Linked DNA regions of Homo sapiens: region 2 is linked to region 1. Evidence: fine-mapped expression QTL. A gene starts in region 1. The other region holds a variant in brackets. All regions are shown on one strand. Distances are from middle to middle. Region 1 holds the start of RICTOR (RPTOR independent companion of MTOR complex 2). Region 2 overlaps FYB1 (FYN binding protein 1).

What was found. PIP is the estimated chance that this variant, and not a neighbour inherited with it, causes the effect.
Region 2: its variant is the best candidate, but not a certain one, in a credible set for the expression of RICTOR in fibroblasts (GTEx, PIP 0.87).

The regions. Positions count from the first base shown.
Region 1 is chr5:39,065,449-39,081,276 of GRCh38, reverse strand. It overlaps RICTOR (RPTOR independent companion of MTOR complex 2), which reads left to right and starts at 6,878. Exons shown (of 38, transcript NM_152756.5): 1 at 6,878-6,948; 2 at 7,119-7,166. The coding sequence starts at 6,900. RefSeq lists enhancers at 4,030-4,129, 6,466-6,992, 7,519-8,045 and a silencer at 6,681-7,580.
Region 2 is chr5:39,159,865-39,175,692 of GRCh38, reverse strand. All of the region lies in intron 2 of FYB1 (FYN binding protein 1), which reads left to right. It also overlaps the pseudogene GOLGA5P1. Among named protein-coding and RNA genes, the nearest start is that of FYB1, 52 kb to the left of the region's middle. The variant GA/A (reference allele first, on the strand shown) is at 6,330.

The DNA.
Region 1 (15,828 bases):
CTGCTGCTCTGTTTAGGTTCCACAAATTTTGTGTTGCATTTTCAAAGCTGGAGGGAAGGTGAAACTCACCTTTTTTGCTCCTTTTATGTCAAGGTCATAGTGCCACACTATTGTCCAGTGCCTAAACACTGCTGTTTCATATATTTGTCTAAATTAACAATTGTTTATTGTAGGAAGGTACATCCAACAATCATTATTCTATCATGGATAGAATAATAAATTCATTTGAAAAAAATTATTTAATATGGAATAGCTACTTTGTATTTTGTTTCATATCATCAATATCTGAAGTCCTTGGCATAGAATTCTGTTTATTTTGATTTATACGGATTCTTACTCATAGTCAGTTTTTTCTATGAGTTTAATGATCTTTGAATGTGAGCTTTTATTTGTTTGATCTTGATATGTGACGATCCTAGGAACTGATGAAGTAATGGACTTTCCCCAAAAAGGATTTGTAATTGCTACTGCTGAAAGCCAGGGGGCACTACCAACCTGGGTCCACTTTGGTCCACTTCTAGGATCCTGGACTTAACGCAAGAGCCTGATGTTCTGCTTTCCTACCTTGCAGTGGCTTAGTCTTCAGATCTAGATAGCTAGAGAGGACCTTTTTTCCAGTTTTCTAGTTGCTCACTGCTCCTCACTCTGACTTCAGTGTCCTATTTTGTTATTTTTTTTTTTTTGTGGAGGAATTTGGAGGAATTTTTTTAGTCCCCTACCCCTACGTGCCCCCTTCAAAAAAAAAAAAAAGAAAGAAAGAGAGAGAACAGAAAAAAGAAAAGAAATGAAATGAAAGAAAAAGGTAAACTATTAATATTTATTATACATATTAACAATGGAGCTGTCATCTTGTCAGAAGGTTAAATTGACATGAGTCATATAAGTATTCTGAGGGAAGATTGGGAGTTCTACAACTCAGAAGAATTCACAACAGACTCAGGAATTCTCTCCACTTTGGCATATGGCCATATACTTTATCTAGGTAAGTGGATTTAAGGAGGATATTATAAACTATTCCTCACAAAATGTACACACGGCTTAAGAAGAATCTTGCAAAGAAATTGTATGTAACACAAATAATAAAAGCACAGTACAGGTTTTAAAATATGGCAGACTTGATACTTCTGATTTTAGCACTTTATCAGCTTCATTACAAGGAAAAAGCAATGATAATGCAATCAGATGTCACAATGTCAGCCAACATTTTTTAAAATTAAAAATATTAGAATTATGTGAAATATGAATTTATATGCATTATCCTTCACTATTATCTGAGTCTAATTATATATTGCTCCTTGAGATGTCAGCTATTATAAAGCTACCAGATTAGCAAAATATTTTTAACATAAACAGAAAATAAAGATAATTTTCTGTATTTTTTCTGTGATGTTAGAAGTCATGCAATATTGAATCCATTACTTTGCAAAAAGACAGATTTTTTTCTTTTTTCTCAAGGTAGGGTCTTGCTTTACTACCCAGGCTGAAGTGCAGTGGTGTGATCATAGCTCAATGCAGCCTTGAAAAATCTGAGCTCAAGTGAGCCTCCCACCTCAGCCTCCCAAATAGCTGAGATTACAAGAGCATGACGTCATGCTAGATAACTTATTATTATTATTATTATTACTATTTTAGTAGAGACGAGATTTGCTACGTTGCCTAGGCTAGTCTGGAATTCTTGGGCTCAAAGGATCCTCCTGCCCCAGCCTCCCGTACTGCTGGGATTACAAGCATGAGCCACCCTGTCCTGTGAAAAGAGAAAGATTTCTTATTAGCAACAGACAAAAAGGAACATATCAGTTGGGAATATAGTGCTATTTCCTACTGTGGTTAAAAAAATGGCTGGGAATAAAAAAAAAAAAACAGAGAAAAATATTTGTTGACAAAACTAAAACGCAAACCTATTGGTCAACCAAAGCAGAAAAAGGGGTGGGGCAGGGGAAGGCTGAAGATTTGAAGAAAAAGGCATTTGAACAAATAAGCATTATGAACAAGCTTTGCTGTGTGTGCAGTTGAATGAAAGAATAAATATTTCTAACTATGTCTTAGCTTACGGTGTTGGCTTAATTCTGTTAAGCTTTTTTCTGTGCCATCAAAGTAAAAGTACCAAATACCAGGTGTCCTTATCAGTAAACAACTTCCTTAATAAGAACAATGTTTTATGAAAATCGATGAAGCAGTTCCCATCAATTTAAAAAGGAGTTCATACAGAAGTACAGAGATAGTACCACATGTGATAATTTTGTATAAATAAGACTTTTTAAAAAGTTTAATTTTCACACACTTTGAAATGAGAGGTGAAGAAAATCTTTTGTATTATACAGGTGTTTACTATTTATTTAGTGGCAAGCTTTTTTTTCATGATGACTGGTGGCTTCGAGTAGCATGTTACCTATCAGATTTTTTAAAAAAAATTAAAAAAAAATTTCCCTTCAAGGTAGATGTGATAACAATAACTAAGAAATTTAATACTTCCAAAAAACCTGTGCTAGGATGAGAGCATTTAGAAAACAGATATTTGAAAGTGTTTCAGTTTTGTGATTTTTTTCTGAAAAAACTTAAAATATAAATGTGTCACATATATAAATTTTCATATCTGCACACTTGAAAATCATGGGAACAGAGTTTCCCAATCTGCTTCAAAATCTTTCAGATAAATGGTTTTGCAACCATTTTGCTGAAAATTTCTAAATGTTATGTCTTCTAGTTTGATAGGAAAACTGATTGACATTAGGCAAGATGAATATTTGTTAGCCAAATTACTAGTTTGATAGGAAAACTGATTGACATTAGGGAAGATGGATATTTGTTAGCCAAATTACATTTCAAAAAGCTTTTGTATCACTGGGTGGACGAAATGGGAAAATGAGTTTTATGGTTTAGAAATGCGGCCAATACAGTAGTTCTTCCATTTTTAACTTTGCATTTTGTGAGGTCTCAGCTATTAAAACCCTATACCCACATAAACTCTTCTTAGAACTAGACTTTTAAATTTCAGTATCACAAAGTATATAACAAGAAATGTCGAGAATAATGAAGTATATTCAGCCCCATTGCTTTGTATTCGTGTCATTAGTAAAATAACATTAAAAATTACTTTTAACCATTTTTATTTTGTGTTTATGTTTTAAGTTCTAATTTAATTTAAAAAGTGAATATATATGTATTGCAGTGTATGTGCAAAAGTTCTTTTTTTAATGAACAGATGCACAAATAATTTTGATTGTTTATAATGACCTGTTAAGTAAGTCATTATTATAATCAACTGTTTATAATTTTGGTTTAGAATAGCCAACAAAATTTTTCTAAAATAGTTTTCCTAAAAAAATTCATGAGTAAAAATTTGTTTGGGAACAAGTAAAATGAGAAAACGGGAGAGAAAAATCACTCCAAATTCTACCATCTGTAGATAATAACTGTTGAAATTTTACTGCATACCCTTCTAGATTTCATTTTTTAACATATCTTCATCTTCCATAAACATAGGTTTATTCTTCATTTAAAACTGTTAGTCATAGAGAGTCTCTTTAAAGAATTATTTAAAAGGAAATTTATATGAGATTTTGGGACAGAGATTAAAATTTAAAGACACAATACTCAGGGGCTCTGTTCTGCTGTGACCAAGACATAATTAACACTGGATGGGATTGTAACATTTGTTAAATTTAATTCATTGCTTGTCGTGTAAATGGCCTTTAGATGTCTCAAATGTGCGGTTTAACTATGAAGTTACCAAGAAATAGTCTGACCAAATTTTGTGGCTTTTTACTTGCTTTATCTTCAAATGGCCTATGTACCAAGGCAGAGAGATTAAAGGGAACTAAGATTTTGATAAGGCTTTTGTTTCTGTTCAGTATTACAACTGTATCCCAAACCGATAAAATATGGTTTACATACTAGAATTATTACTAGAATTCTAGTTATATACTAGAATTATTAACTGCATGCAGGAGGGTAGAGAATAGAACCAAGGGAGTGACTATGAATGGAGTAATTGTATCCTCAGAATTAAGCAGTTATCTTCCAAAGGTATGGTCCTGGACTCGATCTTCTTATAGAACATTTTTTATCAATGACTAATACTACCAGAAAAAAAAAAACAGTCACTGACACAGCAAATGAAACCTAGCTGGGAAACGAAAACTAAGAAGAGGAAGTCACATTCTCAATGACCAGATTAGAATCAAAATAAAAATTGGAGAAGTAGTAAGAAGTAAACAAAATGAGTAAGTCATATGGGTCGGCTAAAAGATGCAAGGAAGAAAAAGAAGTTTCAAAAGGAGGAATAGCTAGCAATTGGCAAGTATCAAAGAAGAAAATTTAGGGGTTTTAACAAGTATCAATCTGACTATAAACAATAAAGTAGTGCTACTGTTTAAAAAGCAAACACATTATAAAATGTATTCCTTACTAAAATTTATCTAAACTTCTGCTTCCTAGTTGAGTGTCACTTGCAAACACTAATAACTTGTTCCTTTTCACCAGACCTGCCATTCACTCTAAGAGCAAATATGGAGAACCTAACCACTCAAACGACTGAAATAGTAACAGAGAAAAAACTAGTTTCGATGAAAGATTGAATGTAATTTTTTCTCCTGCAAGAAATAGAGTAATTGAATAATTGTCTTTAATAGCATACAGTTATAATGATTAAAATACTACTGGATTTAGGCACTTATGTACCTCAAGTAACTTAAAAGTAGATTAGTTGTACTCAACTTTCATAAAACACCGAGAGAAAATGAAGTTAAATTGTATTAGGAAGGAGTTAATGTAGAATATAGAGGGATTTTATAATATGATAAAAGATTTGTTGAAAATCAGAACAACTGTAAGAATCTGGTATAATTTCTACTGATAGATCTCTACTTTTCTTTAAGGGTGAAATGTGGTGATACATGGAGGGTTGAAATCCAACCCTCTGCCAGACCTCAAGTTTTGTGATTTTTGTTTTAGGCAGTAACTAGAATAAATAAATTGCACCAAGATTTTTAAAGCTATAACGGAGGGAGCACGCTTGTTGACATTAAAACTACTACTGGTAATGCCAGAAGACATTTCTTTAAAGTACTGTAATTGTGTTACATCCTTAAATCTAAGTGCAGTATCAGCCGCAGATATCTGATTGTAGACTTGGTTTAAAAAAAAAAAAAGAACTGGAATATATAGATAATTGGCAATATTCTAAGGAAGCAGTGTTCCTATTTTATTTTCCAGATGATGCTACTTTATGTTCCTTTTATTTTTCTTCTTACCACTTATTTTACAAATGACATATATTAACTATAGGATATTTAAAAAGTAGAGACAAGCAAACAAGAACAAAAAAGTGCACGTGTAATTCCACAAATGAGGGGAGAAAATCAGCTAACATTTTCATGTATATTTTCAGACTTTTTTCAACATACATGTACATATAAAATATTTTATAATGTATATTTTTAATTTCGTACATATTTAAACTTTTATTATAAAACAGGAAATTTGTAATATTTTGCTTGATTTAATATCATGAACATTATTTCCTATTACTAAGTCTACCTCTTCACTTTTAATCGTTGACATAATTTACATAATCCCTACCTTTGGTCATTTAAGTGTTTCCAAATGTTCACTCTTATTAACAACTTCAACAAATATCCCCAATATTGCTTTTTTTTTCTTTTTTAAAGTAAGCAGAGAATTGGAATAAATTAGAAATCCAGGGCACTTACTCATCCAACAGATATTTATTGAATACTTATTTGTGCCAGATATTGCATTAACTGGGAGCTGGGAAAACAGAACTGGTTAAGGCTAGATCTCCACTTTTAATTAACTTTCAGTCTCATGGAATAGAAAGATGAGCTGAGGAACTGGAGAGGACAAATCGCTCCTCTCTTTAAAGTAAATGTAGTTCAAGAGAAAGCTGCTGGGTCAGTGGCCAGGTGTGTGTGTGTGTGTGTGTGTGTGTGTGTGTGTGTGTGTGTGTGTGTGTGTGTGTGTGTGTGTGTGTACACATACGTATTAACTAAGCAGTTTCTAGAATTAAAATCCCTAATGTTAATAGGCTTATGCATAAAATAGATTAATCCACAACACCTGCATGAGCCACGATCCTAGGAGCTGCAGAGCCATAAAAGCCGGACACAGTACCCAGCAGCCTCGCCTCGGCTCCCGGCAGAGAACACCCTCTCCCCGGCCTCCCGGCGCTGGCGCGATCCCACCGCGGGGACCGCCGCCCTGGTCCCCGGCCGCTGCACCCCCTTCTCGCGTCCTACGCCTGGCGGCCAAAAACAAAACTGCCTAACCACTTCCACTTGGAGAAGCCCTCCTAGCCGAGAGGGGCATTCTGAAGATCAAGGGCGAGGCTGGAAAACAAACTTTGTTACGTGTTAACTTAGTTGGAGCAAAGCGATTCCAGGAAAGGAGTCTAAAACTGTGCGCAGCGTTTTTATAAAAAAATGTTTCAGTGGATACACGGGGGAGCGGGGCCGTCTATGGCAGGGCTTCAGAGCAAGCAGGAGACTGGCAGGCCGGCGAGAGCAGGTGGCCCGCCGGCCGCATCCCGGCCTCCTCCTCCCCGCTCGCCTGCATTTGGACGACGGCTTCCGCGGCGGCCGGAGGGGAGCATCCTCTACACTGCCAACTCGCATCAATGGGACTTTCCTCGTGGGAACTGCCCCTCCCGGCGGACGTGCCCTCCGGGTCCGGCGTGGGCGGGCGGGTGCCGCGAACTCCTTGCAGACCTTGGGTCGGCTCAGTGCTCCCTCAGCGCTGGGGCCGAGCCTGCACCACCCGCCGCCGTCGCCGCCGAGGGGGCGGGGGAGGTGCCGCGGGGGGCGGGCGCGGCGCGCGGGGAGGGGAAGGGGTTCTCGCGCGATTGGGCGAGGTTTCCGGTGTTGTGACTGAAACCCGTCAATATGGCGGCGATCGGCCGCGGCCGCTCTCTGAAGAACCTCCGAGTACGAGGTAAGCCCGCTGCAACCCTCACTCCCCACCGCCCGGCGCCCGCCACCCCTGGCACTTGCCTTCCCCTGGCCCTGGGTTGGGGAGCGAGCCGGGGCGCTGGCCGGAGCCAGGGCAGCCGCAGCTGGCCTGCGAGCCAATCCTAATTGGGGCTGTGTGTCTGTTTCGCGCAGGGCGGAATGACAGCGGCGAGGAGAACGTCCCGCTGGATCTGACCCGAGGTAACGCGGGGCGCCGCGGGCGCCGCGAGGGCGCGCTGCTGGGGAGGAGCCGGGTCCGGGGCTGGGGGCCAGAGGCAGGGGCGGGCCCCGCACGGGACCGGCGGGGTGCGGGGGCCAGAGCCGGAGCCCCGCCTGCCGGCCCGCGGGAACCGAGCCCGGGGCCGCCTCGCCGGACCCATCCCCCTACCCAGCGCCCGCTTCCCTCGCCCGAGCCCTTCTCCGGGCCTCGGGCTGCTGCGGGTGCGGGGGAGCCCCGAGTGGAACTCGGCAGACCCGGCGACCCTCTGGGCTCGAGCTCCGGCAGAGTGGTTTGCACCTATCCCGGAGTCCGGCAGCCCAAGCTAGGGGCAGCTGGAGGGAGGTAGAGGCTGTTATTTAGGTTGCAGGAGGATGTTTGAGGGAAGAGCGACCACATCCTGCCCTCCCCGTCCCCGGAGCAGAAGCCGGACCTGCTCGGTGCTTGCCGACTGCGTGACTGCTTTCCCCTTTGCCCACCGTCCTGTGGGGACCCGCAGCATTGATAACTTGGTAGTGAAACCTAGAACTGGTCATTACTGCTAAATGTCTGGTTTATGCTGTTTCCCTTCTGCTTCCCTTTCCCGGGCCGCTGGGACTGTAGTTGGCTAAAGACCGCCCCCTCACCCTGCTGCAGGTTCATTGTTTACCTTCTGCAGTGGAGATGGGTTTGTTTACACCTTCCGAACTGGGGAAACTCGGGTGATATTTTTAATGACCTAATCCCGTTACTAGCCAGTGTTTCCTCTATCACTTACAGTACTAGAGTTTATTCGACATTATCTCGTTGAAGATTTAGTAGTTACGTACAAGATTCTTTTCTCTTCCACGGTAAACAGGATTGAGCCTACTGATTCCGACGAAGTCATATTTCACACGGGCTGTAGCTTGGAGTGTAACCCGGTTCAGCTGTACAGAATCAGTTTCTGAGGTCTATAAAACACCTTAGGAAGTAAACAAAAAAACTTGTTGTAGACATTCTGTATGAGATCAGTTTTTTACCCTATGTCGTACCTGACGTAATGACTGTTATCTACAGTAATTTGTTAAAGCTGGGCTCCTTGTTGACAACGGCTAGAGTGAAAGCATAGTGCATTTTCTAATTTGTTTTATTTTGCTTATCACGATGTAAGATTACTGTTTTATAAACTGAATGGTCAGCTTTCACTTAGCTACAAGAGTACATTTTTATAACTTAATATTTTATTCTGAAAGTTCAGGGACTTAGTTTTGGGTGAACTAGGTCCTTTTACAAGACAGTTTCTAAAATATAATACAATATAGTAGAGCTTAAATCCTGAAAATGGCTACTAATTAGATTATCAATGCACTAATTTCCACCATTTTTTTCAGCAGATCGGTTTTGAGAATTAGTATAGAAAGATGTAAAGCTTTTGACTTCTGTGCAACTGTTTGGAAACTTGACTATAACACACATGTGAAAAATCTATATAAAATAGATTCACTAGAAAACTTCCTAACAAGGATAACTTCTACAATTTCAGGTCTGTAAAAGATGTAATTAGTGAGTGATTTAATTTATATACAGGCATATGTGTTTTAGATGAAGGTGAAGGGAGCCCTTAATAAACTTGAGTTTAACTTGTGCATTAAAAACCTGCTCAGATGTGGTGCTGGAAATATATAGTTGTATTTTAAATTGAGTTCGTCGAGCTCCTATATATAGTGGTTTCTCTGCTTGGTGTCAAAAATGTTGAGTTGTGGAAGAGCTTAGGTACACATCTGATTTGATAATTTTGGCTTACTCCAGTTTTACTGAGGCACACAGGTAACTGTTTACTATTTAAAATGCCATATTAACTGAGAATTTAGTAAGCACCTATGTCCATAGGTATTTCCAGGTTAATATAGATAGTGCAGAAAATGCTGTTTTCGGCTTGCCCTGACAAAATGTACTTCAGTTTGGAATAAAGTATACACAGCCATTTAAAACTGATTGCAAAAATAAAGAGTGAGGGATTGTTTGAGATCTGTATTTCTAAATCATAAGGAAGTTTGGAATTAATCTGAATCAGTCATTTTATAGTGATACTATTGTTTTAAAAAGTTGCTGTTGTGACAGACATTTCATTGTTCAAAGAAGGCTTGAAGAAAATTCATGAGGAATTAAAGTTTAGTAATAATTTGAGAACTGTGAGGCAGTTTGGGTTGCAGCTGAAGGGCAGCTGTTTGTGGATTAGATTACAGTATGTAAAAAGATAAAGTTTGGGCAACCAAAAATTTTTTTGTTTAATGCCAAGGCAGTGTTTGCTTTTATTCTTATTTTTTAAATTTAATCTTTGAGAGATTCATTGTGTAGTTACCTAATAAAGCTCATTATAAAATAGAGGACATGGTCATTGTAATCCCTAAAGGATCCATCAATGTGTAGTGAAAAGAGAGTTGACTATAAAGTCAAATCATTCTGGATTGTAACCTCAGCTGTGAGATTTAATAGTTGGGTGATTTGGGGCAAGTTATTTGACCTTGCTTTACCCCTGATTTCTTCATTTCTAAAATAAGAGATAACTTCAAAGGGTTAAGAATGTGAAAAGTAAATGAGCTAGTTCTTAATTAAAGTACTTGGCATAAGACCGGATACTTTGTAAGTGATATTTAACATTAGTTGCCTTCCTACATTGTGAAATCACAGTTTTAAAACTCACATTAAAAATACTTTAAACGGTTGTTTTGAATATTATAAACTTGTTAATAAGGAATTATGGTATTCGAGCTTCTTTTTTTTTTGAAACATACTGTTATACTAATTGGGTATAGTCTATCTGAGTTAGAGTTCTTGAATATAACAATTGTAAAGCAATCTGTGACATTACCAATAAATTAAGTCTAAGCGAAGTGCAGTATGTTATATTCACTTAGGATAAAATGTGATACTGTATTTCATAGAACCTTAGAATTTTTGTCTCTGACACCAGGACATTTCATACTATTTAATAATGACTTGGCTAGCCTTGCAAGCTTCTTGAGGCTCAGAAGAATTCTAAGTTTCGTTGGTTTTGGTACTTGTGTTAGTGCTGTGGTTCATACATAGAGTGCCTCAGTTAAAAATTGTTGATGGATTAATTTTTATCTAGTTTAGGAACTTCATTATAGTAGACTTTACAGTCAGCGTATTGGTAATGGTTGCTCTGAGTTTTGTTCAGACAACTACTTAATTTGTGAAAGTCCCCAATATTTGCTAATGATATTATTAAATACTGTCTGTAATGCATGCCAAAATGTATTTTGAAGCCCAAATGCTTCCTCTCGCCATTTGTACTGCAAGGATAGACTGTCTTATCAGTCCAGTAGTGCATCTCTTTACTGGTACTGAATCACTTGAAAAGATACAGTGTTCTTCCTGGGTAAACCCCTCCTGGTATACTTTAATTATTGTGTTCAAAGTGAATTCCCAGAATATGGACACACTAGTTCAAATATAATTATTAGAATATAATTTATTTAAAAGTATAGTTGAATTTTATAATTTTTGATTAACTCCTTTACGTTTCCACTAAGAACTAAAAAACTGACTCTCTTGGTTGCTGTCTAATACCTAGAAAAGCAGAAAGGTTCCAAAATGATGTAGATTTGAACTCTAACTTTTTTTTTTTTTATTTGAGACGGAGTCTCGCTCTGTCGCCCAGGCCGGACTGCGGACTGCAGTGGCGCAATCTCGGCTCACTGCAAGCTCCGCTTCCCGGGTTCACGCCATTCTCCTGCCTCAGCCTCCCGAGTAGCTGGGACTACAGGCGCCCGCCACCGCGCCCGGCTAATTTTTTGTATTTTTTTTTAGTAGAGACGGGGTTTCACCTTGTTAGCCAGGATGGTCTCGATCTCCTGACCTCATGATCCACCCGCCTCGGCCTCCCAAAGTGCTGGGATTACAGGCGTGAGCCACCGCACCCGGCCCTGAACTCTAACTTTTTATTTTCCAGTTTCTTCTGGTTAGGAGTTTTCTCATTTGTTTAATCATTCAGTTAGACAAAATGGACATTGACTGAACATTTATATACCAGATGCTGAATTAACTGCTGGAAGAATAAAAATGAGGAAACTCTTTCCCCCTTTTAAGGGTTTCATTGGAATAGACATAAGGAAATGATTGCAGGTGGAAAAATAAATTAAGTAATCAAACTATATAGGAAACAGAGGTAACCCAATAGTAGCCAGAGGAGAGAATGATTAACTGTCTGGTGGGTAAAAGGATCAGAGAAGTCTCATAGAGGGGTTGACTTCTTAAAAGAATAATGGTGGACATAGTGGAAGGAAATATGTGCTCTCTTGGGAATATACCATACCCTGGGAAGGGGAAAGTTAGGAAGCAGAGGAGCTGCCTAGGGTGCTGCTGATATAATCTGACGGATGATAGAAGACTGGACCATGGCGTTGGCTACAGAAATGAAGTCAAATACATATTAAAATGGAAGAATTATCTAATTTGCTTTCTTCAGATTTCAGACTGATTTTGTAGTCCCCCCACTCTATGCAGTGAATTTTATTTCTTTATTAAAATGTAGAGGCTGCCCATCCAGTGTGAATTCCTCAATTGTCTGCCCAGACTTACTGTCTTTACCCTGATTCAAAGAATAAAGCGTTGCTATTCTTTTCCAAGGGTAACTTGGAAAAACGTTTATGCTTCTAATACTGTTTCCTCAAGATTCTTTGTAGAACTAAGATCTTCTCTTCATTTCTCCCTTACAGTTGGCTCAGTTTTCTCATGTTCAGCAAGCAATTTTTATGTTCTTCACATGGACCAGGTACTATGTTAGGCATGGGCTGAAAGTGGGAGATATGGAATGATAACGACAATATTACAAAAACTTTTTTTTGAAGGCTCTACAGACAGAATAGTTTGTCTTCACTCCACAACTTTATTGCTTAACAAAGTCTTGTAAGCAAAACTCTCCCTCTGTACTGAAAATAATTTCTTAAAAGATGCTAGTAACCTCTTGCAAAATTTATGGGCATTTTTAAGTTCCACATTCTACTATTATACATACTATTACTATAATACTAGTTTTGTGCCAGGCACTGATTTCATTATTTTACTTAATATTCAGCTGTTTTAGCTACACTTATTGTCTCTGTTTTACAGTTGAGAATATAGGCTTTGAAATTTTAAAGGGCTAAAACTCAAACAGGTAACTTAACCAGTGTCACAGGGCTTAGTGAGTGACTGGTATGTGTCTGATAATCATCTCAGAGTTGTGATGTGTAAAACTTTGCACCCCAAAGTGTACCCACTTTTCACATTCTAGGTATTTCCGCCATCCTCTGTTATTCAAGCTAGAGATCTGCTGCTTATCCTCTTTGTTGTATTGCTAAACTCCTCTGATTAGCTTCTGAAATAGCTGTTGAATTCAGTCTCTCCTTCTGTTCCCATTGTCAGTTCATATCCTCATTATGTCATCGTGTGGCAGTAATATCTTCTCACCTTTTTTCACTCGGTCTACTGTATGCCTGCCAGGATTATTTCCCAGAAATCTAGATCTGATCTTGTTGTTCTCTTAAATAAAAAAACAAAACAAAACACATACACACATTTTCTAGGCTAATTTTTGCTCACAGAATACAGTCCACATTTCTTTAGTTTGGCATTCAAGGCCTTTTTTGATTTACTCCCATATGGTTTTCTTCTGTACTATTTTAACCATACACATCTCAATATATCTGCCTCTCTGCATAGTTCACTTCATTACATACAGTCCTTCTCAGAGAGGATTGGGGAGAGTTTGCCAGTCTAAAGCACCAACCCCCATTCCACCTCTTTCTCCGTGGAGACTGTATGCCCCTACTTGAGAATCTTTCAGTCAAAGAAGAATGTTTGCTATTCCTTGAACATGGCATGTAGTTTAATATTCGCTTGACCTTGCGTAGGTATTTCCTTTGCCTTGAATTGCATTTCCAGCACAGTTTATCTATAGAAGTCCTAATTCTTTAAGGTTGAGGTCACATGCCATTTCTGGAGATCTTTCCTTATCCCAGTGGGAATTTATTGCTTCCTTCTCTGCTTTTTTACGTCTTTATTTATTATTTTCTAAATTGCAGTTACCATTGTCTTACTTTAGTTCTTTGTCCAGTTTCTTCCCCCTTCACTAGATCTTTAGCTTCTTGAGGGCAGGAGGCCTGTTTTACCCATTTTTAACATCCGCTTCCCCCAGCATCCATCAGATAATCACTGAGGCATTAATTGACTGGAAGAAGGGAGTGAGAGACATGGGAAAAAGAATAGTACAGTATTAAGGAGATTAGAAGGAAAAGAGTACTTTAAGATTACTGTCCTAAGGGACAATGAAATTGATGGTGCCATAAAATGGAGAAGTCATTTTGGGAAGGATGATAATGAGTTCAGCTTTGCACCTTGAATTTCACGTGATTATATAAATGTGTAAAAGGTGGCAGCAAATACTGGAATGGAGGTTTTAGTTGCCCTGAATTTCTAGTCTGATTGTTCTGTGTGTAAGATGTTGAGAAAAGGGATATAAATGGAAAAAGAGCTGAAGATTTGAATGTATGAAAATAGATAAGATGATGAGGGTGTATATCATAGGGTAGGAATCAATAAGAAGAAAGGAGTCAATAGAAGAGAAGAGAGAAAATTGTGATCTCTTAAGCTAAAACAGTTTGGATATTTGTCCCCACCCAAATCTCATGTTGAATTGTAATCCCCAATGCTGGAGGTGGGGCTTGGTGGGAGGTGTTTGGGCCATGGGAATGGATCCCTGATGGCTTGGTGTTGTTTTTGCAATAGTGAGTTCTGGCAAGATCTGGTTGTTTAAAAGTGTGCACCTACCCTCTTACTCTTTCTCACTCCTACTTTGCCATGTGAGATGCCTACTCCTGCTTCACCTTCCATCTTGAGCAGAAACACCCTGAGGCCTCCCGAGAAGCAGATGCTGGCACCATGCTTCCTGTACAGCCTACAGAACCAATAGCCAATTAAACCTCTTTTAAATTACCCAGGCTCAGATGCTTCTTTATAGCAGTGCAAGAACAGCCTATTACAGAAAATTGGTAAGTGGGCGTGGAGCATTGCTCTAAAGATACCTGAAAATATGGAAGCAGCTTTGAAACTGGGTAACAGGCAGAGGTTGGAAGAGTTTGGAGGACTCAGAAGACAGGAAAATGAGGGAAAGTTTGGAACTTCTTAGAGACTGGTTGAATGGTTGTGACCAAAATGCTGGTAGTGATACGGACAATGAAGTCCATGATGATGAGGTCTCAGGTGGAAATGAAGAACTTAGTAGGAACTGGAGCAAAGGTCACCCTCATTATGCTTTAGCAAAGCACTTGGTTGCATTCTGTTCATTCTGTAGGGACCTGTGGAAGTTTGAACTTGAGAGTGATGACCTCTGGTATCTGGCGGAAGAAATGTCTAAGCAGCAAAGTGTTCAAGATGTGTCCTGGATGCTGCTAACAGCCCATGCTAAGATGTAGGAGCAAAGAAATGACTTAAAGTTGGAATTTGTTTTTAAACAGGAAGCACTGCATAAAGGTTTGGGAAATTTGCAGCCTAGCCATGTGGCAAAGAAAGAAAAAGCTTTTTCAGGGGAGGAATTCAAGCAGGCTATAGAGCAACCACGTGCTAGAGATATTTGCATAATTAAACACATGCCAAAGTGCTGATATCCGTGAAGTTGGAGAAAAGGCCTTCAAGGCATTTTAGAAACCTTCACAGCAGCCCCTCTCATCATAGGCCCAGAGGCCTAGGAAGAAAGAATGGTTTTGTGGGCCTGGGCTAGCCGGGCCTTGCTGCCTTGCACAGCCTCAAGACACTGCTCCCTGCATCCCAGCCACTCAGGCTTCCAGCCTTGTTCAAAGGGGCCCAGGTACAGTTCGGGCTGCTGCTTCAAAGGGTGCAAGCCATAAGACTTGATGGCTTACATGTATTATTAAGCCTGCAGGTGCCCAGAGTGCAAGAACTGAGGCTTGGGAGCCTCTGCCTAGATTTCAGAGGATGTATGAGAAAGCCTGGGTGTCTAGGCAGAAGCCTGCTGCAGGGGTGGAGCCCTCATTGAGGATCTCTATTAGGGTGGGGCCAAGGGGAAATGTGGGGTTGGAGCCCCCCAGAGTCCCCAGTGGGGCACTGCCTAGTGGAGCTGTGAGAAGGGGCCTACCATCCTCCAGACCACAGAATGGTAGATCCACTGGCAGTTTGCATCCTATACCTGGAGAAGCCACAGGCATTCAACTAAAACCTGTGAGAGCATTCCTGGGGGCTAAACCCTGCAAAGCCACAGGGCAGAGTTGCCCAAAGCCTTGGGAGCCCACCCTTTGCAGCAGTGTGCCTTGAATGTGGAACATAGAGTCAAAGGAGATTATTTTGGAGCTTTAAGATTTAATGACTGCCCTGCTGGGTTTTGAACTTGCATGGGGCCTGTAGCCCCTTTCTTTTGGTTGATTTCTCCTTTTTGAAATGGCAATGTTTATCCAATGCCTATATCCTCATTGTATCTTGGGAGTAAATAACTTATTTGTGACTTTACAGCCTCATAAGTGGAAGGGACTTGCCTTGTTTCAGATGAGACTTTGGACTTCAGAGTTAATGCTGGAATGAGTTAAGACTTTGGGAGACTGTTGGGAAGGCATGAGTTTATTTTGCAGTGTGAGAAGGACATGAGATTTGGGAGGGGCCGTGGGCAGA
Region 2 (15,828 bases), 94 kb before region 1:
TTCTTTAAGGAGTGGCCAGGAAGAATACTGGGTAGTTAGGAGCCTGCAGTTTAAAATCTCTCAGAAACATTCCACACAGCATGTACCCGCATGAAAAGGGCATATAAATTGTTGAGCCTATTATTAAATTACACAGCAGCGTTTCTACCTGCTTTCACAGCAAGTTTTGTCACTTCTCTTTTATAAGTCCCAGAAGAAGGCAGAGGTTTTCCCCAATGAGTCAAAAGAAGCCCCCAGCTAGTTACAACCATTGGACACCGGCATACTCCAGCCCATGTGAGTCACTTTCTTGATAGAATGGTGTCAACTCAATCCAACAATGTTCACCGCTTATATCAGAGTCATCAATCAACCGGAGTCTTCTCCAAACCCTGTCTCCCTGTCTGATAGATGTCTAACCCAGTTGCTGTTGTCAAACTCCCTACGCCTACCAACTGGGCTCCTTCTTTGACATATTCTTGGTTTCTCCTTAAAGAAGGTTGAATAGCCAATGTAGTGTCTGCCTGGCTGGATCTCCATTCTGTTCTCTTTTCCTACCTCATGCCCCTTTTCCCTTTCCCCAGCTTAGAGACTTGACTATCAGCAATTCCCCTCCTCCTTATTGTTTATTTGTCAATCTTGCTTACTCCTAAATAATCATCCCACCACAAACGCACACACACAGGTAAGAGCAAGCAAACAAATAGAACCATAACTTTTAAAAAATTTTACAGTACTCCTCATCACAAAGAAAAGCTGAGACACTGGTTTCTCTATGGGAGAAGAGGTCTCCCTGCTTCTGTTCGCCCTTAGTCTATTAGTTGTTGACTTTGCATTTTGCCTAGTCTCTTCTTAGCTTCCTCTTTCATCTTAGAGAGTAACATGTACCTTTTCAGTTATTTCACCATTGAGATGCTGAAAACACTAACAAAAATAAGATGCTTATGTTTTATCTTTTTAAGGTTTTTAAACAAACTAAAAAGAGAGAAAGAGCTTATTTTGATTTCATGGCATGATAGAAAGAACTTCAGACTTAAAGAAGAAAAACAGGATTTTAGTCCGGGAGCTCATGTTTTTAAGCTTTGTGTCCTTGAGTAAATCATTTATTAAACTTATCTGGACCTTGGATTTTTCATCTTTGATAAAAAGGGAGAGTGTTTTTCAGGGTTTCCTTATGCTATGTCATCCCTAAGTCTAAATGATATTCTTATTCCATGTGTTAAAGTCCTGTGCAGAACCAGGAAGATGGCTTCACAAATAATCAACTGGTTTGTTTATGCCAAATTATATAAAAAGCACTGGAACAGTAAATTCAAAGACTTTCAGTCCTAGGGTTTTATGGTTCTATCTCTAGGAACAGAAATTCTGATTCCTTGGTCATTTGTTCTATAAGTGATATAGGATAGGCCCAAAAGGGATTCTATGTACAGAAATCAGTAGCATTTTTATATACCAACAACATTCTAGCAGAGAACCAAATCAAGAACACAATCCCATTTACAATAGCTACAAAGAAAATAAAATACCTAGGAATTCATCTAACCAAGGAAGTCAAAGACCTCTTCAAGGAGAACCACAAAACACTGCTGAAAGAAATCAGAGACCACACAAATAAATGGAAAAAATGTTCTATGCTCATGGATTGGAAGAATTGATATCATTAAAATGGCCATACTGCCTGCCCAAAGCAATTTACAGATTCAATGCTATCACTATCAAAATGCCAATGTCATTTTTCACAGAATTAGAAAAATCTATTCTAAAATTCATCTGGAATCAAAAAAAAGACTGAATAGACAAAGCAATACTAAGCAGGAAGAACTAAGCCAAAGGCATCTTACTGCCTGACTTTAGACTATACTATAAGGTTACAGTAACCCAAAGAGCATGATACTGGTACAAAAACAGACATATAGACCAGCTGAACAGAATAAAGAACCCAGAAATGAACCTACACTTCTACAAACTATCTGATCTTTGACAAAACTGACAAAAATAAGCAATGGAGAAAGGACTCCCTTTTCAATAAATGATACTGAGATAAATGGCTAGCCACATGCAGAAAAATAAAACTGGACACCTGCCTCTCAGCATATACAAAAATTAACTCAAGTGGGTTAAAGATTTAAATATAAGATCTCAAACTATAAAAATCCTAGAAGAAAACCTAGAAACTACCCTTCTCAACATAGGCTTTGGTAAATAATTTATGGATAAGTCCCCATAAGTCCCCAAAAGCAATTGCAGCAGTAACAAAAACAGACAAGTGAGACCTAATTAAAGAGCCTCTGCACAGCAAAGGAAATTTCCAACAGAGTAAACAGCCTAAAGAATGGGAGAAAATGTTCAGAAACTATGCATCTGACAAAGGTCTAATATCCAGAATCTACAAGGAGCTTAAATCAACAAGCAAAAAATCTAATTAAAAAATGGGCAAAGAACATGAACAGACACTTCTTAAAAGAAGTTGTACAAGTGGCCGATAAACAAATGAAAAAATGCTCAACATCGCTAATCATCAAAGAAATGCAAATCAAAACCATAATGAGAAACGATCTCACACCAATCAGAATGGCTACTATTAAAATAATCAAAAAACAACAGATGCTGAAAAGGCTGCAGAGAAAAGGGAGCACTTATAAATTGTTGGTGGGAATGTAAGGTAGTTCAGCCACGGTGGAAAGTAGCTTGGAGACTCCTCAAAGTATGTAGAACACAACTACCATTCAACCCAGCAATCCCTACTACTGGGTATATACCGAAAGGAAAATAATTCATTCTGTCTAAAAGACACATGCACTTGTAGGTTCATTGCAGCTCTATTCACAATAGCAAAGACATGCAATTAACCTAGGTGCCCATCAACAGTGGATTGGATAAAGAAAATATGGTATATATACACCATGGAATACTATGCAGCAACAAAAAAGAATGAAGTCATGTCCTTTGCAGCAACATGGATGGAACTGAAGGTCACTATCCTAAGCGAACTAACACATGAACAGAAAACCAAATGCCTTATGTTCTCACTTATAAGTAAGAGCTAAACACTGAATACACATGAATGTAAAGATGAGAACAATAGACCCTGGGGACCACTAGACACAGGAGGGAGGGAGGAAGGTGTGGGCTCAAGAACCACCTGTTGGTTGAGTGATGAGATCACTGGGACCCCAAGCCTCAGTGTCACACAATACACCCATGTAACAAACCTGCATGTGTACCCTCTAATCTAGAATTAAAGTTGAAATTACTATTTTTTTTTTTTGAGATGGAGTCTTGCTCTGTCGCCCATCCTAGCATGGAGTGGCATGATCTCGGCTCACTGCAACCTCTGCCTCTCAGGTTCAAGTGATTCTCCTGCCTCAGCCTCCCAAGTAGCTGGGATTACAGGTGCACACCACTATGCCTGGCTGATTTTTGTATATTTAGTAGAGACAGAGTTTCACCATGTTGGCCATGCTGGTCTCAAACTCCTGAGCTCAAGTGATCCACCTGCCTCGGCCTCCCAAAGTGCTGGGATTACAGGCATGAGCCACCACACCCGGCCAAAATTATTTTTTTAAAAAGGGATTCTATCCTTTCAGTGGGTCTGCTTTGTCTGATTCTGTTCCCTTTCTGTGTAGAAAATTGGTGGTTCATATTATATAAAGAATGCATTAAAGACTGCTCCTCACCATGCTGCCTTGTTTTCCCCAATCTTTTCAATATATTATTTCCTAAAGTTGACTTCTGATTCTCCTCATTATCTTTACCATCCTTCACCCCTGCTTGTCACTTCCTCGTTTGTCCAATTACAAAAGAGGTAATGCCATGGCATCTTAACAAGGCTTTTCCCACCTTACAATCCCCAGGTTCTCTTACTTCAGCAAATGTTTGGCCCACGTATGCTTTGGCTCTTGCAGAAAGGGCAAGTGATAGCCAGAAGGAACTCTCAGACAATGAAATACTAACTGAAAGTGTCAGCTGGTAGTTAACGTGGTATTATTAAGAATTGCAAACAAATAAGTTGTGTTTCAAAACAAAAGAATGGGAGGTGACGATAGTATATACCAGGCAATATTGCACTTCAGTAGTGCAATAACTTCTGAAGTTATTGGTCTTTTCACAGCCTGCCTGTTGCCTCTTTAGGTTGAACTTCAAATGAGACATGTGTACCCACCATTTATTTTATATCAGTGATTCTCAAACTTCAGTGTGCATTAGAATCACCTAGAGAGCTTATTAAAACACAGATTGCTGGGCCCCAGACCCAGAGTTTCTAATTCAGTAGGTCAGGCATGAGGCCTAAGAACTTGCATTTGTAGCAAGTTCTCAGGTGATGCTGATGCTGCGAGTCCTGATTCCACAACTTAAAAACTACTGTTCTATACTATAATAGAAGAAAATGTATAAATGCTATCTTCAGGGTTTACTTTTTTTTTTTTGGAGACAGAGTGTCTGTTGCCCAGGCTAGAGAGCAGTGGCACGATCTCGGCTCACTAGAACCTCTGCCTCCTAGGTTCAAGCAATTCTCCTGCCTCAGCCTCCCGAGTAGCTGGGATTACAGGCTTGTGCTACCACATCCAGCTAATTTTTTTGTATTTTTAGTAGAGACGGGGTTTCACCATGTTGGCCAGGCTGGTTTCAAATGCCTGACCTCATGTCACCCCTCCGCCTCAGCCTCCCAAACTGCTGGGATTACAGGTGTGAGTCACCGTGCCCAGTCTAAAAATTCTTTTAAGCAATTTACTTAAGCAGAAACATGAATGGTAATACAATAATAGGGGAAAGGAGCGTTCTGATCAGAGAGCAGGGAGTACAAATTCCTTAGGTAAGAACAAGCTTTATGGGGTTAAAGAAACAGAAAGACTTGGATGGGCTGGAATATCACAGATGAAGGAGGAATAATGGTTCCAGATGAGGCTGGAGCAGTAGGCACTGACCAAATTCCATAGATCCAGAAGGTCACAGTTTGGAATTTATGATAGGAAGACATTGAAATTGGAGCCATAATGAAGAGGAATGTTATAGTCTGGTTTGCATTTTAGGACCTCTTTTTCCTGTGTAGAGCATCAGCTGTAGGCAAATAATAATGACACCAAAAAACTGGTGAGGAGGCTACTGTTAAGAGTCCAGATAAGAGATGATGAAGTTTGCACAAGGGAGGTCAAATGGAGGAGAAAGAAATGGATGAATCTAGAATGAGTTTCAGCTGTAGCATTAATGGGGAATTCTCATGTATTGGATGTAGGGAATCAGAAAAAAGGAGGGAAGTTTACTCAGCCTGGGCCCCCTCCAGGTCTGCTGCTGAGGGGGTCCGGCCCAGGACGGCGACAAGACCACGGTGCAGCTGGCCCAGAGTCCTCAGGTTTGCCAATAGGATTATTCTGCTGCCATCATGTCTTGGTTTGTTGATCTTGCTGGAAAGACAGAAGATCTTTTAAACTGAGTTGATCAAGGGGCTGCAACAGCTCTCAGTAGGAAAGACACCACCACCAGCAACATCATATATAGCAAAAATACTGACTATACTGAACTTCACAGAAGTTCAAATACAGATTTGACATATCAGACTTGACCTGTAGCTACTTATACTTCATCAGCAACTGATAACATTTGAAATCAAAAAGCCACCATCTTAGCTGGCACTGCAAATGTGAAAGTAAGATCTAGGACACCAGTGGAGGCCTCTCATCCTATTGAAAATTCATCTGTTCCTAGGCCTTCATCCCAATTTGTGTGAACAAGAAAGTCAGAACCTGATGATGAGCTGCCCTTTAATTTCCTTAATAGTTCACAGAAGGAGCCTACTGGGAGGGTGGAAATCAAAAAGGAAAAAGGAAAGACACCTGTCTTTCAGAGTTCTTGGACGTCAAGTGTTAGTTCTGTGAACCCCAGTATAACCACCATCAAAACCACTGAAGAAAATTCTTTTGGAAAATGCATCATCAAATGCTGCCTGCACTGAGCACATCCCAACACCTAATGAAGATGGCAAATCACATGAACTATCTAACCTTCGACTGGCCCGGCTAATTTTTGTACTTTCAATAGAGACAGAGTTTCACCATGTTGGCCAGACTGGTCTCGAACTCCTGACCTCAGGTAATCCACCCGCCTCGGCCTCCCAAAGTGCTGGGATTACAGGCGTGAGCCACTGCATCTGGCCCTCCTTGGTCTTTCAACTGGAGCACCTCAAACAGCAGATGGACTCTGCCTCTGGAAGTAGTAGTAACGGGTCTTCGATTAATATGTCTGAAATTGTCAATGGTGAAGGCACTCTTCTGTGAAATGTTCCTGTTCTTTTTAATGGCACAGAAACTAATCTGGCAGGAATGTACGGAAAAATTCACAAAGCTAGTTCAATT[GA/A]CCGGTTTAGTATTCGTCTGGGAATTTTTCTCCAAAGATACCCCATAGCATGAGTTTTTGTGATTATATATATGGCTTGGCTTCACCTCTGGGTCATGATTGTTCTGTTGACTTATACACCAGAAATGCACCACGACCAACCATATGGCAAATGAACTGAGCCCAGATGTTGCAATGATTAGTTGTCTTTTTCTAAACTTGGGATCTGCAAGAAGGCCAATTGCCTAAAATTTCTGAGAATGTGCACAAGATTATTTTATCACTACAAGCTTTTAACTTTTTAAGTTATTATGCAAGTATTCTGCTACCTAAATCTTCCTATTTCCTTTAAATGGTAAGAGTTTCTAAAAGAGACAATAATTTAACAAGCTCAACTCTGCTTTTTCTGAGTTCAGTGGTCCTAATATACATGTAGAGAAAGATGCTGGTGGTGTTCACCTCTGTACAGACCATCTATATGTTAGGTGACATTGATAATGGGTTACAATCAGGGAAACTAATTGTATTTAGTGACAAAAATAAAAAGTTTCCTATTTTGATTAAAAAAAGAAAAAAGGAATTAATATGAATGATTATTACATATTCATTAATTATGTGTTCATTTCACCAATTGACTATTATGTTTGGACTTTATACACGATTATATGCACAACAGTAAATGTGACTACGGTTTTTAACTTAATTTTTATAATATAGTGACAAGATTTAAGAATTAGACTTAGAAGCTGTAAAACCTGGCATTGTTTGATATTATAGTTAGAATTATTAAGCAAAGTATACAGATTAGATAAATAAGGTGGAGGTATCTTTACATGCAATTGATAACCTAACTGTGGCAATTAGGGCAGTATAGATCAACCCAAGGTCTTTGGACATTCTCAGAAATCCACAAATTTCTTACACAATTTTTTACATTATGTTTTCATTCAGTGAAAGTCTAAAAAAAAGTTAATGGAAGAATAACTTTTTCATTAATTGTCATTAAAATACACCTTTACTTGTCTCAGGCTAACAAGTGCAGGCCAAACATTGTCATGATGAACTACAGAAACAAAGGTTTTACAGTAATTGAAAGAAGAAATGTAGTGGGAAAACTGAGTTATAATACATGACATGATAATATAGCAATGCTAAACTCAAGAGAAATATTCCTGATTACGGCACTTTAATTAAAAATGGAATATGAATGTGGGCTAAAAGTTTTTGAAAAAAATAGGCTTACTCAGCAGTTAAACACATGCTACCAATTGCAAAGGTTTATTAGCACCGTAAGAAAGTTACACAGAGACACATCTAGTTTGACTAATTTTTTTTCACTAAAATATCCATAATAAGGGAAGAGAATTAACATTTATAAAGTGTCTTTTGTGAGTTTGTGATGGGCACTGTTGTTAAATAATATAATTGTCATAACTTTATTGTGGAGTAGAATTTTTGCCTTTTTACAGAGTAAGCTGATGCCCTGGAGGATTAAGTGATTGTGCTAATGAAATTAAAAAGTGATTACAAACGTCCAGTGACGGAGAGGGTATGAGGAGACAAGACTTCATTGAGGCACATTGCTGAAGCCTCACTGGAGGACAATTGGCAGATCCTACAGGAAAATAAAATATGCAAATCTTTCATCTCAGCAATTCTACTTTTAGATCTCTGTCCTAGAACACTTCCCCCCACCACTGCCCTGCAGTTACACAGAAAAGCACAAGTAGATGCTTAACATTACATTGTTTTTAGTCAAGGGGGAAGACTGAACAAACCTGGACTATCCCTAACACAGAATACTCTGGAACATTTACAAAGAACAAGATAGGCCCAGAATAGGCAGCACAATATTCAGCATGCAGAGCAATTTAGGTTTTTAATCAGATATTCCTGTGCATACATACAAAGGTCAGTAAACACTTAGAAAAAGTTCTGCAAAGATAAACAATGGTAGTTTCTGGGAAAGAGAGGGCAAGGAGGAGTGAGAGGTCATCTGAAACTCTACTTTATCTGTGTTGTAAAGCTTCTTCCAGAAATGAGTCATGTATTATTTGTGTAATAAAAAATAACTTAAAACAAAAACAAAAACAAGGGAGAGAGAGAGAGAGACAGAGAGAGAGAGAGAACTACCCAAGATCACACCTCTAGTAGAAGCTTGATCCCCGCATCATCTCATTTCAAAACGCTCGCTCTCTCCACTGTGCCCCACTACTTCTTTGTGGCTTTTATATTTTTTTCCTTCTGTGTCTTTTCTTCTTTTAGGTTGGTGCAAAGTTAATTGCAGCTTTTACCAAAAGTAATGGCAAAAACCGCAATTACCTTTGCACCAACTTTATATATCTTTCTCTCCTCTAAAACCTGATTTATCATCTTATGTTTATGTGCTATATTTTGACTCAGGGTCCCTCCTTTCTTTTTTTATTTATATAAATTTAAGGGATAAAGTGCAGGGGTTTTTTTTCATGGATACCGTGTGTAGTAATGAAGTCTGGGCTTTTATTATAACCATCACCAGAATAGTGTACATTGTACCCATTAATTAATTTCCAATCCCTCACTCTTGCCAACCCTCCCACCCTTCCCAGTCTCCAGGGTCTATTATTTCACACTCTATGTCCGCGTCTATATTTAATTTAACTCCCACTTACAAGTGAGAACAGGTGCTTTTTGACTTTCTGTTTCTCAATTATTTCATTTAAGATAATGTCCTCTACCTCCATCCATGTTACTGCAGAAGACATAATTTTATTTTTTTATGGCTGAGTAGTATTCCACGTATACCACATTTTCTTTATCAGTGTCATCCATTTTATAAGTTTCATCCATTGATGGACACTTAGGTTGATTCTATGACTTTGCTATTGTGAATAGTACTGTGATAAACATACAAGTGCAGGTGTCTTTTTGGTAAAATGATATCTTTATTTCTTTTTTTTTTTTTTTATGAGACGGAGTTTCACCTTGTTGCCCAGACTGGAGTACAACGGCACAATCTTGGCTCACCACAACCTCCACCTCCTGGGTTCAAGCTATTCTCCTGCCTCAGCCTCCCGAGTAGCTGAGATTACAGGCACCTGCCACCAGGCCCGGATAATTTTGTATTTTTAGGACAGAAGGGGTTTCACCATGTTGGTCAGGCTGGTCTTGAACTCCTGACCTCAGGTGATCTGCTTGCCTCAGCCTCCCAAAGTGCTGGGATTAGAGGCATGAGCCACTGCTCCTGGCCGATTTCTTTTCTTTTGGTTGAATATCCAGTAGTAGGATTGCTGAATCTTACAGTAATTCCATTTTTAGTTGTTTGAGAAATTTCCATACTGTTTTCTCTAGAAGCTGTACTAATTTATATACATTCCCACCAACGGTGTATAAGCATTCCCTTTACTCGACATCCTTGCCCACATCTCTTATTATTTTATTTTTTAATAATAGCCATCCTGACTGCTGTACGATGATATCTCATTGCGGTTTTAATTTGCAATTCTCTGGTGATTAGTGATGTGGAGCACTTTTTCATATTCTTGTTGGCCACATGTGTGTCTTCTTTTGAAAAATATCTGTTCAATGTCCTTTGCCCACTTTTTAATGAAATTATTTTGGGGGTTGTGAGTTGATTGTAGATTCTGGATATGAGTCCTTTGTTGGATGCATAGCTTGCAAATGTTTTCTCCCAATCTGCAGATTGTCTGCTTATTCAGTTGATTATTTCTTTTACTGACAGAAGCTTTCTAGTTTAGTTAAATCCCATTTGTCTATTTTTGGTTTTGTTGTATTTGCTTTTGAAGTCTTAGCCATGAATTTTTGCCTAGGCTAATGACCATAAGTTTTTCCTAGGTTTTCTTTTAGTATTTTTATAGCTTCAGATCTTACATTTAAATCTTTACTCCATCTTGCATTAATTTCTTGTGTATGGTGAGAGATAGGAGCCCAGTTTCATTCTTATGCATATGGCAGTCAAATTTTCCCAGCACCATTTATTGAATAGAGTATCATTTCCCCAGTGTACATTTTTGTCGACTTTGTCAAAGATCAGTTGGCTGTGGGTATGTGGCTTTCTTTCTGGGCTCTCTATTCCATTCCATTGACCTATGTGTCTATTTTTATACCAGTGCCATGCCGTTTTGGTTGCTATAGCCTTGTCGTATAATTTGAAGACAGGTAATGTGATGGCTCCAGCTTTGTTCTTTTTGTTTAGGATTGCTTTGTCTACTCAGGGCTCTTTTTGCTTCCATATGAATTTTATGATTATTTTTTGTAAGCAATGGCAACAATAGTCATTGCCATAGCAAAAGTAGCAAATATTTAACTTAACTGAGTACCTTCTCTTGTCACATGTCTGTATATGTAGTTGTGCTTCTTACAGGTTTACTGAGTCATAGTCACTTTATCTCCCTTTGAGTCACGCTAAGAACACTTGCTCTGTCCAGGCACTACAGGGAAGCTCTGCCTTCTTTGTTGGCAATTCTAGTTCTTTCTCCAGTGCATTACAATTCTTTGCCTGGTCTAATGGTCTAATTTGTCCCTTTCAAAACTTCATAGTTTTAGCAAGGAAAAGCTTGCTTCCTGGATGAACCACACTGGTCAGGCAATTTCCTTTATTAAAATTTCTTTGCGAGGCTTTCTCTTTCTTTACTTAAAAAGGGTGTATGTCATAAATTAATGTAGCACAGGCCAGTCATGGTGGCTCACACCTGTAATCCCAGCACTTTGGGAGACTGAAGCAGGTAGTTCACGTGAGGTCAGGAGTTCGAGACCAGCCTGGTGAAATCCTGTCTCTACTAAAAATACACAATTAGCCAGGTGTGGTGGTGGTTACCTATAATCCCAGCTACTCAGGAGGCTGAGGCAGAAGAATCGCTTGAACCTGGGAAGTGGATGTTGCAGTCAGCTGAGATCACATCACTGCACTCCAACCTGGGCAACAGGGCAAAACTCCATCTCAACAACAACAACAAAAAAAGAACGTAGCCCAAAAATGTGCTGTGTTGGGTGTGCAGAGTTTTTTGTTTGATTGATTTCTTTTGTTTTAATAGTTGCCAACATTCAAAAAGTAGAGGATTTTATAGAAAAATCTAGTCTTTTTCTTCACATATTTACAGTGGGCTGGAGCCCCACAGTGGCCACCCACTGAGACAGGGCATTAGTTTCCTGTTCACCATGGTCACGTGCTCCCAGCTCAGTGCACACAGGCATGCTCCTGCCTGGCACCCACAGACAGCTGAATTTGGAGCACATGCTTTATTTCTCCTCTGTTTGCCCCTCTCTCTCCCTGAGGATGTGCTATTGCCTCTGCACATCAAGGTTTATTCCTTCTCTGCTTATAGATGTTATATTACTGGCTTATATTGATTTTATCCTAAAAGTGTTCTCAAAGGATTTCTACTGTTGATTTAGCCAAAACATTCACTATTCCCTCAAAAATTGAAAGTGTTCATCTGAGGATGTTTCTAAAACTTGATTTCTAGTGCTTTCTTTGCTCCTATAGAAGTTATTAGTACACTTTTAAAATAACTTTTCATATTTGAAGAATATTCAGTTATTGCCTTATGCCCAAATATGTTGTATCTTAGAGGAGGGAAGAGACACCCTGTAATCTATGAGCATCTGACAAAGAACTTTTCTTATATGCTGACATTTTTCCTTCTTAAAGTCACACTTAACCTTCCAAAAAAAGATCCAAAAGTCAGCAATATCCTGTCTAATTACCGCCTAATTTGAATTTCATATTATTTTATGACTGGAAAATGAATAAACTCATTTATAAAAACAATTTACCTTTCATGATTACATATAATTGAATAACCAACAAAGTTATTGGGGAGGTGAATTTTTAACTGTTGAAAAAATTATTCAGAGACATTGAATGTTAAAGTTAGATCTGAGTTGGAAGAGTTTATGACAGTGATCAAAGCCTTTCTGTACTTATTTTCCTCTCATTGATCATTAGATTTGTTTTGATCTCTACCTCTTCACCTCCATTCTAATTTCAGCTTTGATTATCTATGTAAACATTGATGTTTCAGTATTACTTTTCTTTCCACTTTGTTGGACTGTTCTAAGCTGCCTAACATTTTCTTGGCAGTTTGCATTCAAAGCAAAAGATTTCATACTAATATAATTACAGTGCTTTGTTTTCAACTAAATTGGTTTTCAAAATTTCCCATTCACAATGGTTTACAAATCCTTTGAAGATAAGAGCAGATGGCTTTGAATTAGGGCAAGGAAAAATTCCGTAAAACTAGATTTTCTAAGTCTGTGACCCAGGCGTTTCAAGTCCTTAGACTTGAAGGCTGCCGAGGATTGAAAATTTTTAATGATACTTTTACCTACATAACAATATCTACTAATATGTTTGTATTGTATATGAAACTCTGTATTATATCAAATACCAATCATAAAAGAGAATGTTCATTTTTCCAGCTATTTAATTAAATAGGATGCTGTACTTCTAATATTCTTTATAAAGAAGACATACTCACACAAATAAAATGTCTTATAAACATATGAAAGAATGCTCAGTCTCACTTATAAATATGAAAATCCAATTGATATAGCATTTATGTTTTACCTATCAGGATTATTAAGACCAAAAATGTGTGATAATATACATGCCAGTGAAGTTATGGTAAAACAGGTATTCTCCCACTTGTTTAAAAAAAAAAAAATCACTAAACGGCATTACTTACCAAAACTTTTTTTTTTTGAGATGGCGTCTCTGTTGCCCAGGCTGGAGTGCAGTGGCACCATCTCGGCTCACTGCAACCTCCGCCTCCCTGGTTCAAGCGATTCTCCTGCCTCAGCCTCCCGAGTAGCTGGGACTACAGACAAGCGCCACCACGCCTGGCTAATTTTTGTATTTTTAGTAGAGACGGGGTTTCACCATGTTGGCCAGGATGGTCTGGATCTCTTGACCTCATGATCTGCCCACCTCGGCCTCCCAAAGTGCTGGGATTACAGGTGTGAGCCACAGCACCCAGCCTACCAAAATATTTTAATGCTCAGTTCTTTTGACCTACCGATTTCACTTTCTAGGAATTTATCCTACAGGTACATTTATGCTTGCAGTCAAAGACATACATACAAGAAAAATTTTATAATTGTAATTGTCTAAAATAGCATAAAATAAGCAACAATCCAGAGTTCCTCAGAAGGTTGAATATGGAGTTACCTAGCAATTCTACTCTTGGTATTTACCCAGGAGAAATGAAAACATAGGTCCACACGAAGACATACATTAACGTTCATAGCAGCATTCTGTATAACAGGCAGAAGATAGAAACAACTTAAATGTTCATCAACTGATGAATGGATAAATAAATGTGACATATGATGAAATATGATTCAGCCATAAGATAGTAATATTAATATCTGCTACAATATAATTGAACTGCAAAAACAACTAAGTGAAAGAAACTAGTCACAAACAACCACATATTGTATGATTCTGTTGACATGAAATATCTGGAATAAGCCAATCTGTAAGAAACCAAAAATAGATTATTGGCTGCCTATGGCAGCAAGGTTTGGGGATAGGGATGGGGAGTGACTGCCAGTAAGTACAGGGGTTTATTTTTGAGGTGATGTGTATATTCTAAAATTAGATTATAGTACTGGTTGCACAACTGTAAATATATTAATACCATGGAGTTGTATATTTTAAACCAGTTTATTTATGTGACTTATACTTCAGTGGTTATTTTTATAACCTAAGTGACCAGAAATAATGAGACTGGTCACATAAAATAAGGTAAATCCATGCAATGGAGAACTCCACTGTCATTTAAAAAAAAAAAAACCAGATTGCTCTTTTTGTGCCAATATATAACATCTTTTTAAAATTAAGTTAAGAAAGCAAAGTACAGAATAATGTATATACCATGGTTCCATTTCTGTAAAAAAATACATAGAATATATTTCTTGAAATATACCTAAGAAACTAGTAACAACTGTTGTCTTTGAGGCTTGTAACTAGACTATGGGGGTCTAGAACAGGGGTTTTTCTTTTCAGCATTCCCTCCTATATTTTCTTAAATGTTTTACTGTGCAGATATTTATTTTACAGTTTGCTTTTTTAAATTATTTTTGTTTTCTAAATGGAAAAAGGACAAAAGAAAAAGAAAATCAATCAGTGAAACATTAAATGTGTGATACATGCAGTGTCATAGGGCATACGCAGGTGTTGACAGTGGAGACCCACCTCAGAAGCTCACTGTTTAGCTAGGAAGAAAATGAATAAATAAATGAGAAAGTAATTTATGGTAATTTTAAATAAAATAAAAATGGTGTGAGAAAACACATACCAGTGCTCTGCGTACAAACAGAGAGCTCTCTGAGCTAGGTGATAACACCAGGGAATCACAGGACAGCCACACCACACTTCAAAAGGGCAGGCAGTTTTTTTAAATCTTGCTTTTAACAGAATGGTCAGATGTGTGGCAATTAGCATGTCATTTCGAGCACAGGTGGCAGTTTAGAAAACTTCTAATAAAAGTTACTGAAGTATGATGATCCCAATCTCTCTGCACAGATGGAAATAAACATGTCCTATCGATCTTTAAAGCGCCTATCCCATACAGAACACAACTGTCTTAGTTCCTAGAGTAATTCATAAGTAGCACTGAATACCTACTGTGTGCTTGGCAGATAGACATATTTTGAATTCTTATAGCAGCCCTGCAAGTTAAGAGTCAGTAGTCCCATTTTAATAGGCATAGAATCTAAAACCCAGAGAAGCAAAATAAATTACCCAGTGCCTTACAGCTAATACTGGGTGGGATTAGTAGTCAAGCCCTGGCCTCAATAACTTCAGCACAAACATTCTTTCTGCCAGTCTTTCAAATCCTCATGTTGAAAATTGTTTCTGGTGTGTTTTGGAGTGAAGAATCTGGAAGTAGTATTTGGTTGTTTTGGTGCCTACTGGGGTAGATCTAGGGATTTAAACTTCTTCATTCTTAGACTATTCTAAGATTCTCGAACAAATCTAGGATTAGACATGACTAATTTGAGGAAAAAGTGGTTTCTGTTTGTTTATTGTTTTCTTTGCAATTGAGGGGAGTAGACTGTAGTGTATGAATGGGACAGCCAGATCAATTAGTAGCTAAGAAGAATAGGACCATTTATTAAGAACTACCATACCATGTGTCAGATGCTTCTGCAGAGTGCATGTATGTGACCATTTCGCAGATGAGAAAATGAAGACTTGGAGATGTCAAGCAACTTAACCAAGTCTTCATATTGAGTAATAAAAACTGGAAGGTTGATATAAAAGTGGTTGAATCTGAATTTAAACCTAAGCCTTTCATTCTTTACTTCTCCATGAGGCCATCCAAACACATTTAAGATATAGAAGTAGCAAATGTAGGGGTTTTTTCCAAGAAGTTTGGCCATGAAGAAGAGGAACAAAATCAGCTGGTATCTAGGGTGGGGGAAGAGGTTAAAAAAGGATACTGTTGTTCTTCTATAGAGTTGAAGATATCAGACCATGTTTAAGATGGAAAGTGCATTGAAAAGATGAAACGC